Linked DNA regions of Homo sapiens: region 2 is linked to region 1. Evidence: fine-mapped expression QTL. A gene starts in region 1. The other region holds a variant in brackets. All regions are shown on one strand. Distances are from middle to middle.

Region 1 (4,388 bases):
CTTAATAAACTTGTTTTCACTTTATGGATTCCCCGCAAGGTGCCAGGTCCAAGAACCCTCTCTTGAGGTCTGGATCAGAACCCCTTTCTGGTAACAAAAGGATCTTGTCGCTGGCGTGACAGGGCATGGGTGCAGACTAGAGCACTGGGAAAGGCATATTAGGAGCAGTTTTTTCTTTTCTTTTTCTTTCTTTTTTTTTTTTTTTTTGAGATGGAGTTTTCGCGCTTGTTGCCCAGGCTGGAGTGCAATGGCTCGATCTTGGCTCACTGCAACTTCCATCTCCCAGGTTCAAGCGATTCTCCTGCCTCAGCCTCCGGAGTAGCTGAGATTACAAGCATGCACCCCCACACCTGGCTAATTTTTTGTATTTTAGTAGAGATGGGGTTTCACCATGTTGGTCAGGCTGATCTTGAATTCCGACCTCAGGTGATCCACCTGCCTCAGCCTCCCAAAGTGCTGGGATTACAGGTGCGAGCCACCGCGCCTGGCCTTTTTTTTTTCTTTTTTTAAGACAGGGTGTCACTTTGCCACCCAGGCCGGAGTATAGTGGCATGATCTCAGTTCATTGCAACCTCCACCTCCAGGGACTCAAGCGATCCTCCTACTTAGCCTCCTGAGTAGCTGGGATTATGGGTACTTGTCATGACACTCAGCTAATTTTTGCATTTTTAGTAGAGACTGAGTTTTGCCATGTTGCCCAGGCTTGTCTGGAAATCCTGAGCTCAAGCAATCAGCCCGCTTCAGCCTCCCAAAGTGCTAGGATTATAGGTGTGAACCACCACACCCAGCCAAGAGTAGGATTTTAAACACCAGAACCCCTTGAGGACTAAGCTCTGATTTTTTTTACCTTGCCCAAATTCCTACCTAAGAGGTCTGGAGAGTCATGCCCTACAAACCATAAATTCTCATCAGATGGGTTTTATTTAACCCTATATATCATGACTTACTTTCCAATCTGACTCTGGCATAATATTATGTGACTAAGAAGAAAGTCAAAAGATTTTACCCCAAAACATTTTTCTTTGCCATATCTTGAAATGGCCCTGCAAATCTGTCTTTTGTGGGGGAAAATTTGCATCTGTAAAGAATCTCTATTACCGGCCGGGCGTGGCGGATCACGCCTGTAATCCCAGCACTTTGGGAGGCCGAGGCAGGTGGATCAGGAGTTCAAGACCAGCCTGGCCAACATGGTGAGACCCCCCCCATCTCTACTAGAAATACAAAATTTAGCCAGGCGTGGTGGCAGGCACCTGTAGTCCCAGCTACTTGGGAGGCTGAGGCAGAGAACTGATTGAATCCGGGAGGTGGAGGTTGCAGTGAGCCGAGATCGCACCACTGCACTCCAGCCTGGGCGACAGAGCAAGACTCCGTCTCAAAAAAAAACAAAAATCTCTATTAACATAGATAGATATTTTTCCCGTTTCCTGCCCCACCCTCTCCCCTCCTCCCGGCTTTGAGTTGTCCTACCTTTCTGGACCAAACCAATGTATTTCTTAAATGTATTTGATTGATGTCTCGTGTCTTTCTAAAATGCTGCGCCCCGACCACTTTGGGCACATGTTCTCAGGACCTCCTGAGGGCTGTGTCACGGGCCATGGTCACAAATATTTGGCTCAGAATAAATCCCTTCAAATATTTTAGAGTGTGACTCTTCGTCAACACCCTCTTCAAACAAACCTAGGGATGGTCTTTCTGCCTGGATGCCTCAGCTGCGACCAGAAAGTCCACAAAGGAGCAGTGAAGCAGGGCTTGGTGCAGAGGCCATGCGGAAGGCACGGATTTTTGGAGACTGGAGAACCCAAGCGCAAATCCCTACCCCACTGCTCACCAGCAGGTTCTTAAGCAAATCACTCTGCTTCGCTGAATTTACTGTCCTCAGCTATAAAATGGTGTCCTCGGCAACTGGAGCTAGATGCCTTCGCCACTTTGCTGAAAGATATGAACTGTGCCCAAGGTGGGCGGTATCAGATAGGAGCCCCGAAGTGGAAACGTCCAGCGTGGGAATCTCCTCTCTACAGGGTCCCCAAGGAACTCCCGGCAGGCCCACTTCAGGGCTCCTTTCTGACACCGCCCAGCTCAACCTCTCAAAACGATTCACAAAATGCTGTAATAGCCACGATGCACCCTCACTGCACTGTCCCATCCGCCCCTTTTACAAATAGGAAGACCCAAAGATAAAAATAAGAAACCAAGGCCAGGCGCGGTGGTTCACGCCTGTAATCCCAATACTTTGGGATGCGGAGGAGGGCGGATCACCTGAGGTCGGGAGTTCGAGACCAGCCTGGCCAACATGGTGAAGCCCTGTCTCTACTAAAAATACAAAAAATTAGCCGGGCGTGGTGAAGGGCGCCTGTAATCCGAGCTACTCGGGAGGCTGAAGCAGGAGAATCGCTTGAACCCAGGAGGCGGATATTGCAGTGAGCCGAGATCATGCCATTGCACTCCAGCCTGGGCGACAGAGTGAGACTCCTTCTCAAAAAAATAGAAAAAAGAAACCCAAAAAGGCGGGGGAGAGTGAGGAAGAAAAGAAAAAAAAAACTGGAAGGCCTGGGCCGTGATTTGCCAGGGCCACGGCGTGGCCACCAAAGCGCTCCAGGACGACTCGGCAGAGCGCGGGCACCGTGGCTCAGGCGCGCTCCCCGGGGGCGGGGCGAGCAGGAGGGGTCACGTGACGCCCGGCCCGGAAGCGCTCGCGCAGGAGACCCCGGGTGACGGGGCCCGGCGCCGCTAACTGGAGCGAACCCCAGCGTCCGCCGACATGGCCTGGACCAAGTACCAGCTGTTCCTGGCCGGGCTCATGCTTGTTACCGGCTCCATCAACACGCTCTCGGCAAAGTGAGTCTGGGCCCTGCCGGGCGTGCGGGCCCTGGCGACCCCGGCGCTCGTTCTACGCCTTCCCCCTTCTTGGCCCTGCCCTCCTGGCTTCCCCTGCTTTCCCACTTGCTCCGGTCAGTTCGCGCGCGTTATGACCACCCAAGGGATGCGAGGCCCGGGGAAATGCGGAGCGGGGCTGCGCCCCGGACGGGGGGATCCGAGCCCCGGCTTTGATTTGCTGTACAGCCTCCGCTCCTGTTTCCACGTCTTTTAACAGGAGGGTTGGCCGATTCCTTTCCACGGCCCTTCCAGTGCTGGCGTCCAAGCCTGAGCACCTCCCTCCACGAGCTGGGAGAGACCCCTGGACTTGTGCACATGAGCCGCAGTAGTGGCTGTGCAGGCCGAGTGACCCAGTGAGCGTGGAGGCCTCAAGCGGCAGACAGGGAGGTGCCCCACGGCCCCTCAAGGATGAGGGGTTAGAGCTGTGCTTTGAAGCTTAGGTGGGATTTCGGAATGTGTCTGAGACTGTAAGTCAAGGAAAGTCTACGGAAAGGCCAGATCAAAGTCGATTGTAACCAGCATCAAATGCCCAGGTTAGATTTTCTCTCATAATCAGAAAAGTGCTTTTGAGCTGGGGAATGACATGTTGAAAGTGATATGATTGACTCAATGACATGAGGAGTGGTTTGGTGCAGGAAAAACCACTCCAAGGCTGCTGCATAGCAGATGAGGGGAACTAGGAGGTGGCAGTGAGAAGAGAAAGGAAGGGACAACTGGTGGCAGAGACCAGGTGTGAATGGCCACAGGCCTGACCCACATGAGCAAGAAACAAGGATCACTCCAGGGTTTCTGCCTGGGAGAAGAAAAGTGCCATTAACTCAGACAGAGAGGGCAAGTGGCCAGTTCAGCTCTGATGTATGGGGGTGAGAGGGGGGACAGTTCCCAGGAGGTTAGGGACTAAGGACCCAGGCAGTCATGAGACTGAGGGACAGGGCCTAGCCTCCCCTCTGTTGTGGGCAGGATGGCATTTCTTTGTCTCTCTCTGTCTCCATCTCAGGGCAGGGCCTTCCTGCCCCTCCTTTTCTTGTTGCCCAGGCTGGAGTGCAATGGCACGATCCCATGTATAAGGTACCTACGGTGTGTAAGGGAAGGGGACAGAAGTGACCAAGAGGCGATCTCTGCCTTTGAGATGCTTGGAATCTGAGGTGGAGGAGACAGACGTGTACGCACACGACAGTCACAGTGTTCTCCCTTCCCCAAACGGTGGGCACAGTCAGTGGAGTCCTGGGTGGGCCCCACCTGTTCCTCTGGTTCACCTCTGGCCAACTGTGCCTTGTGGAGAACTACTAGCTTCCCAGGCCCTGCATCCTCCTGAGGATCACTCCTCATGCTGAATCCTTAGCTGTTCAGAGGCCCCAGCCTGAGGGCTCCCATCTCAGGATCTGAACACAGCAAAGCAAGTCTTCTGTTCTGTCATGCCAGCCAGGGCCTCTGTCAAGTGCTTAGAGAGCGGTTGTAAGTCCACCAGGGCTGCTGCCCACAAGGAGAATCCAGATTGCCAGTTACTGCTGGGG
Region 2 (4,388 bases), 38 kb after region 1:
TACCATAGATTCATTTTGATTATTGTAGTAAGTGGAATTATAGAGCATATATTCTTTTGTGTTTTTCAGTCAACATGTTTGTGAAATTTATATTTTCTCATGTGTTTATGGTGTTAATTCTTACTGCTGCATAGGGTTTCATTGTGTGGATATGCCTAAATTTTTTTTTTTTTTTTTTAGTGAAAGCAAGTTTATTAAGAAAGTGAAAGAATAAAGCATAGCTACTCTGTAGGCAGAGCGGCCTATGCCTAAATTTGTATATTTCCATTCTATTGAACATTTGGATAGTTTCAAGTTTGGGGGTTACAAATATTGGCTACTGACTTTTGCCTCAAAAACAAAAAAAAAAGAGACTTGGAGATGCATTTTTTTGGGGGGTTTGTTTGTTTGAGACAGGATCTTACTCTGTCACCCACGCTAGAGGGCATTGGTGTGATCACAGTTCACTGCATCCTCGACCTCCCCAGGCTCAGGTGATCTTCCCACCTCAGCTTCCCGAGTAGCTGGGAATATAGGAGCACACCACCACACCTGGCTAATTTTTTTTTTTTTTTTTTTTTTTAGACAGAGTCTCACTCTGTCACCAGGCTGGAGTGCAGTGGCGCGATCTTGGCTCACTGCAACCTCCGCCTCTTAGGTTCAAGCAATTCTCATGCCTTAGCCTCCCAAATAGCTGGGATTACAGGCACACGCCACCACACCCAGCTAATTTTTGTATTTTTAGTAGAGACGGGATTTCACCATGTTGGCCAGAATGGTCTTGATCTCCTGACCTCATGATCTGCCCGCCTCGACCTCCCAAAGTGCTGGGATTACAGGCGTGAGCCACTGTGCCTAGCCATTTTTGTATTTATTTTAGTGGAGATGGGTTTTCTCCATGTTGCTCAGACTGGTCTCAAACTCCTGGGCTCAAGTGATCCACTCTCCTCAGCCTCCCACAGTGCTGGGATTTCAGGTGTGAGCCATTGCACCCAGCCTGAGAGGCAGTTCTTTGTAAAGTTTTTATAAATGTTCTGAATGTGTGAAGGAAATTAATTTCCAATGCACAAATATATATATATATTTGTGTATATATTTAAATATATATATTTAAAAATTCCGACTGAGCACCTGTAATCCTAGCACTTTGGAAGGCTGAGGCAGGAGGATTGCTTGAGGCCAGGATTTTGTGACAAGACCAGCCTGGGCAGCAGTAAGCCCCTGTCTCTGTTTGTTGTTGTTGTTGTTGTTGTTGTTTTGAGACAGAGTCTCACTCTCTCACCCAGGCTGGAGTGCAGCAGCACGATCTCGGCTCACTGCAACCTCCAACTCCCAAGTTCAAGCGATTCTCCTGCCTCAGCCTCTCGGACCCTGTCTCTATTTTTTTTTAAATAAAGAAATAAAAATTCTGTGTAACTTCATAAATCTGTGTTTTGTGCACTTTTCTGAGAGGAGCCATGATTTCCATGAGATCCTCAAGTCCACCCTCCATAGATGGTTATGAACGCCCCTTCTAAAATTCTATGAGTTATTCTGCCTCCAACCTCACATTAATATTCTCAGTAAGTATATTGCATATTTTTGCAGATTTTTAAGAAATGTGTAACAAAGTCATTTGACACATATTTTTTGAATATTTGCCTCAATTGCCTCAATTTTCCATCCTGCAGGACATCCCTCCGCTTGAGTAACAGAGTAATAATAATGCCTTACACTGATACAGGTTTTCAGTGTATAATGCTCTTTCAGCACTGATTTGATGCTCTCAACTGCAGACAACACATCACTTATACAAGACAGATTTAGAGCTCCCAAGAC[ATT/A]GAGTGGATTGAAAAACCAAATTCATCTTGAAGGAGCAGCCGAAGCATTTGAATTGAGAATTTCTCCCCTCCCTGGCACTGGGCCAATATTGCTACACCATGCGACAGCAGAAGGGTAGAAGTAGATTCCTAATTGTTTCTAGGATCGATTTAAGTTCCCTGCTTTTCTGCAACCTCTTATTACAAACCTCCAAATCCACGGCCTTACATGCTGTTTAGAGAAGCCTATTTGTCTGCTGTATTTACCAGCAGCCTGCCTGACTCACTTCTATTTGGCCTGGCCCACCAAATCCAGGGGGCCCCAAATCATCCTTGTTTCTCCCCAAAAATACTCATCCTCTCCCAAGCCCCAACCAGCACCCTTCAGACACCACTGGGACTCAGCACATCTTCGGCTGCTTCACTTTACTGATCACTTTTTAAAAAGGCATTGCTCATCCGTTCCTGAGAGCCCTGAAATCCTCGGCTGGGCTGGAGCCCTTGGTGTCTCCTGCCCTGTGTTCTGGCGTAGGCCGTGGGGAGAGCCTGCTTGAGTTGTGCACATTCACAGGAACTCTACAGGGCTGTGGTCCTGGGGGACAAGGCTGTTTCCCTCCATGCTCATGGCAGTGGAGTTTTCTGGAGAGAGGAGTGGAGGAGGACAGCTGAGTCTCGTCCAGCAGTGGGCTAAGAGGCAGTGATAAGCTCCAAGTGGGGAAAGGAAAGGGCTATGGCAACTTCCGGGATGACACTAGGTCTAAGGTACTGGGTCTGAAAGTGCTTCATGGACCTTTTTTTTTTTTTTTTTTTGAGATGAAGTCTTGCCCTGTCGCCCAGGCTGGAGTTCAGTGGCGCAATCTCACTCACTGCAACCTCCACCTCCCAGGTTCAAGCAATTCTCCTGCCTCAGCCTCCCGAGTAGCTGGGACTACAGGTGCCCGCCACCATGCCCAGCTAATTTTTGTATTTTTAGTAGAGACTGGGTTTCACCATGTTGGCCAGGCTGGTCTTGAACCCCTGACCTCAAGTGATCCGACAGCCTCAGTCTCCCAAAGTGCTGGGATTACAGGTGTGAACCACCGTGCCCGGACTACGGACCATTATTTTGTGTGTTAAGGTTACAATGGCCCAAGTAAGGTTTTGGTTTTTGTAGAGTCTTTTATGATAGTTTTTGTTATCAGGCATTTATGCATAAGAACCCTCTCTTCATGGTCTTCTGGCTTTGTTTATTTGTTTTGTTTTTTGAGACGGAGTCTTGCTCTGTTGCAGGCTAGAATGCAGTGGTGTGATCTCGGCTCACTGCAACTTCTGCCTCCCAGGTTCAAGTGATTCTCCTGCCTCAGCCTCCCTAGTAGCTGGGACTACAGGCACATGCCACCATGCCCGGCTAATTTTTGTATTTTTAGTAGAGATGGGGTTTCACCATGTTGGCCAGGCTGGTCTCGAACTCCTGACCTGAGGTGATCCACCCACCTCGGCCTCCCAAAGTGCTGGGATTACAGGCGCGAGCCACCGCACCCTTCCTGTCATCCTTCAGCAATCCCTGTTGGCCATACTTGATGTTCAGCTTGAACTCATCATAGAATTTCAGGGTCAAAACATGTCTTTTTTTTTTTTTTTTTTTTGAGATGGAGTTTTGCTCTTGTTGCCCAGGCTGGAGTGCAATGGCGTGATCTCTGCTCACCAGAACCTCCGCCTCCCAGGTTCAAGTGATTCTCCTGCCTCAGCCTCCCGAGTAGCTGGGATTACAGGCATGTGCCACCACGCCTGGCTAATTTTGTATTTTTAGTAGAGATGGGATTTCTCCATGTTGGTCAGGCTGGTCTCAAACTCCTGACCTCACGTGGTGCGCCTGCCTCAGCTTCCCAAAGTGCTGGGATTACAAGCATGAGCCACCACGCCCAGCCTCAGAACATATCTTAAAAGTCATTTTACTGCCAGGTGCGGTGGCTCACGCCTTTAATCCTAGCACTTTGGGAGGCCAAGGCAGGCAGATTACCTGAGGTCAGGAGTTTGAGACCGGCCTGGCCAACATGGTGAAACCCTGTCTCTACTAAAAAAAAAAAAAAAATACAAAAATTAGCCGGGCGTGGTGGCACATGCCTGTAATCCCAGCTACTCAGGAGGCTGAGGCAGGAGAATTGCTTGAGCCCGGGAGGCAGGGGTTGCAGTGAGCCGAGATCGTGCCACTGCACTCCAGCCTGGCCGACAGAGCAAGACCCTGTCTCAAAAAAAATAAATAAATAAAAAGTCATTTTACTTGAATGTCTTCTGTAACAGTCAACCTTTATTTGAATACCTTCAGTGATAAAAAAAAAAAAAAAACCTCACCAGTCACTCAAGTAATTACGTTTCAGAAAGTTTTAAGTATTTATTTTATATATATAGGGAGATATATACATATATATTATACATAGGGAGATATATATATATTAGGTATATATATTTAAGATACACACTCACATATATATCTCAACTTTGCTTTCCCTTGTCTTAACCTCATTAATTATGCCTTTGGTACACCAGAGAATAATTTATCTTATTTATTTATTTTTGAGACAGGATCTCACTCTGTTACCCAGGATGGAGTGCAGTGGCACAATCTTGGCT

Evidence for each region. PIP is the estimated chance that this variant, and not a neighbour inherited with it, causes the effect.
Region 2: its variant is the best candidate, but not a certain one, in a credible set for the expression of SLC35F6 in blood mononuclear cells (TOPMed, PIP 0.62).

The regions. Positions count from the first base shown.
Region 1 is chr2:26,761,592-26,765,979 of GRCh38, forward strand. It overlaps SLC35F6 (solute carrier family 35 member F6), which reads left to right and starts at 2,693. Exons shown (of 6, transcript NM_017877.4): 1 at 2,693-2,835. The coding sequence starts at 2,759. RefSeq lists an enhancer at 2,350-2,549 and a silencer at 2,560-2,869.
Region 2 is chr2:26,799,664-26,804,051 of GRCh38, forward strand. No RefSeq gene overlaps it. Among named protein-coding and RNA genes, the nearest start is that of CENPA, 16 kb to the left of the region's middle. The variant ATT/A (reference allele first, on the strand shown) is at 1,798.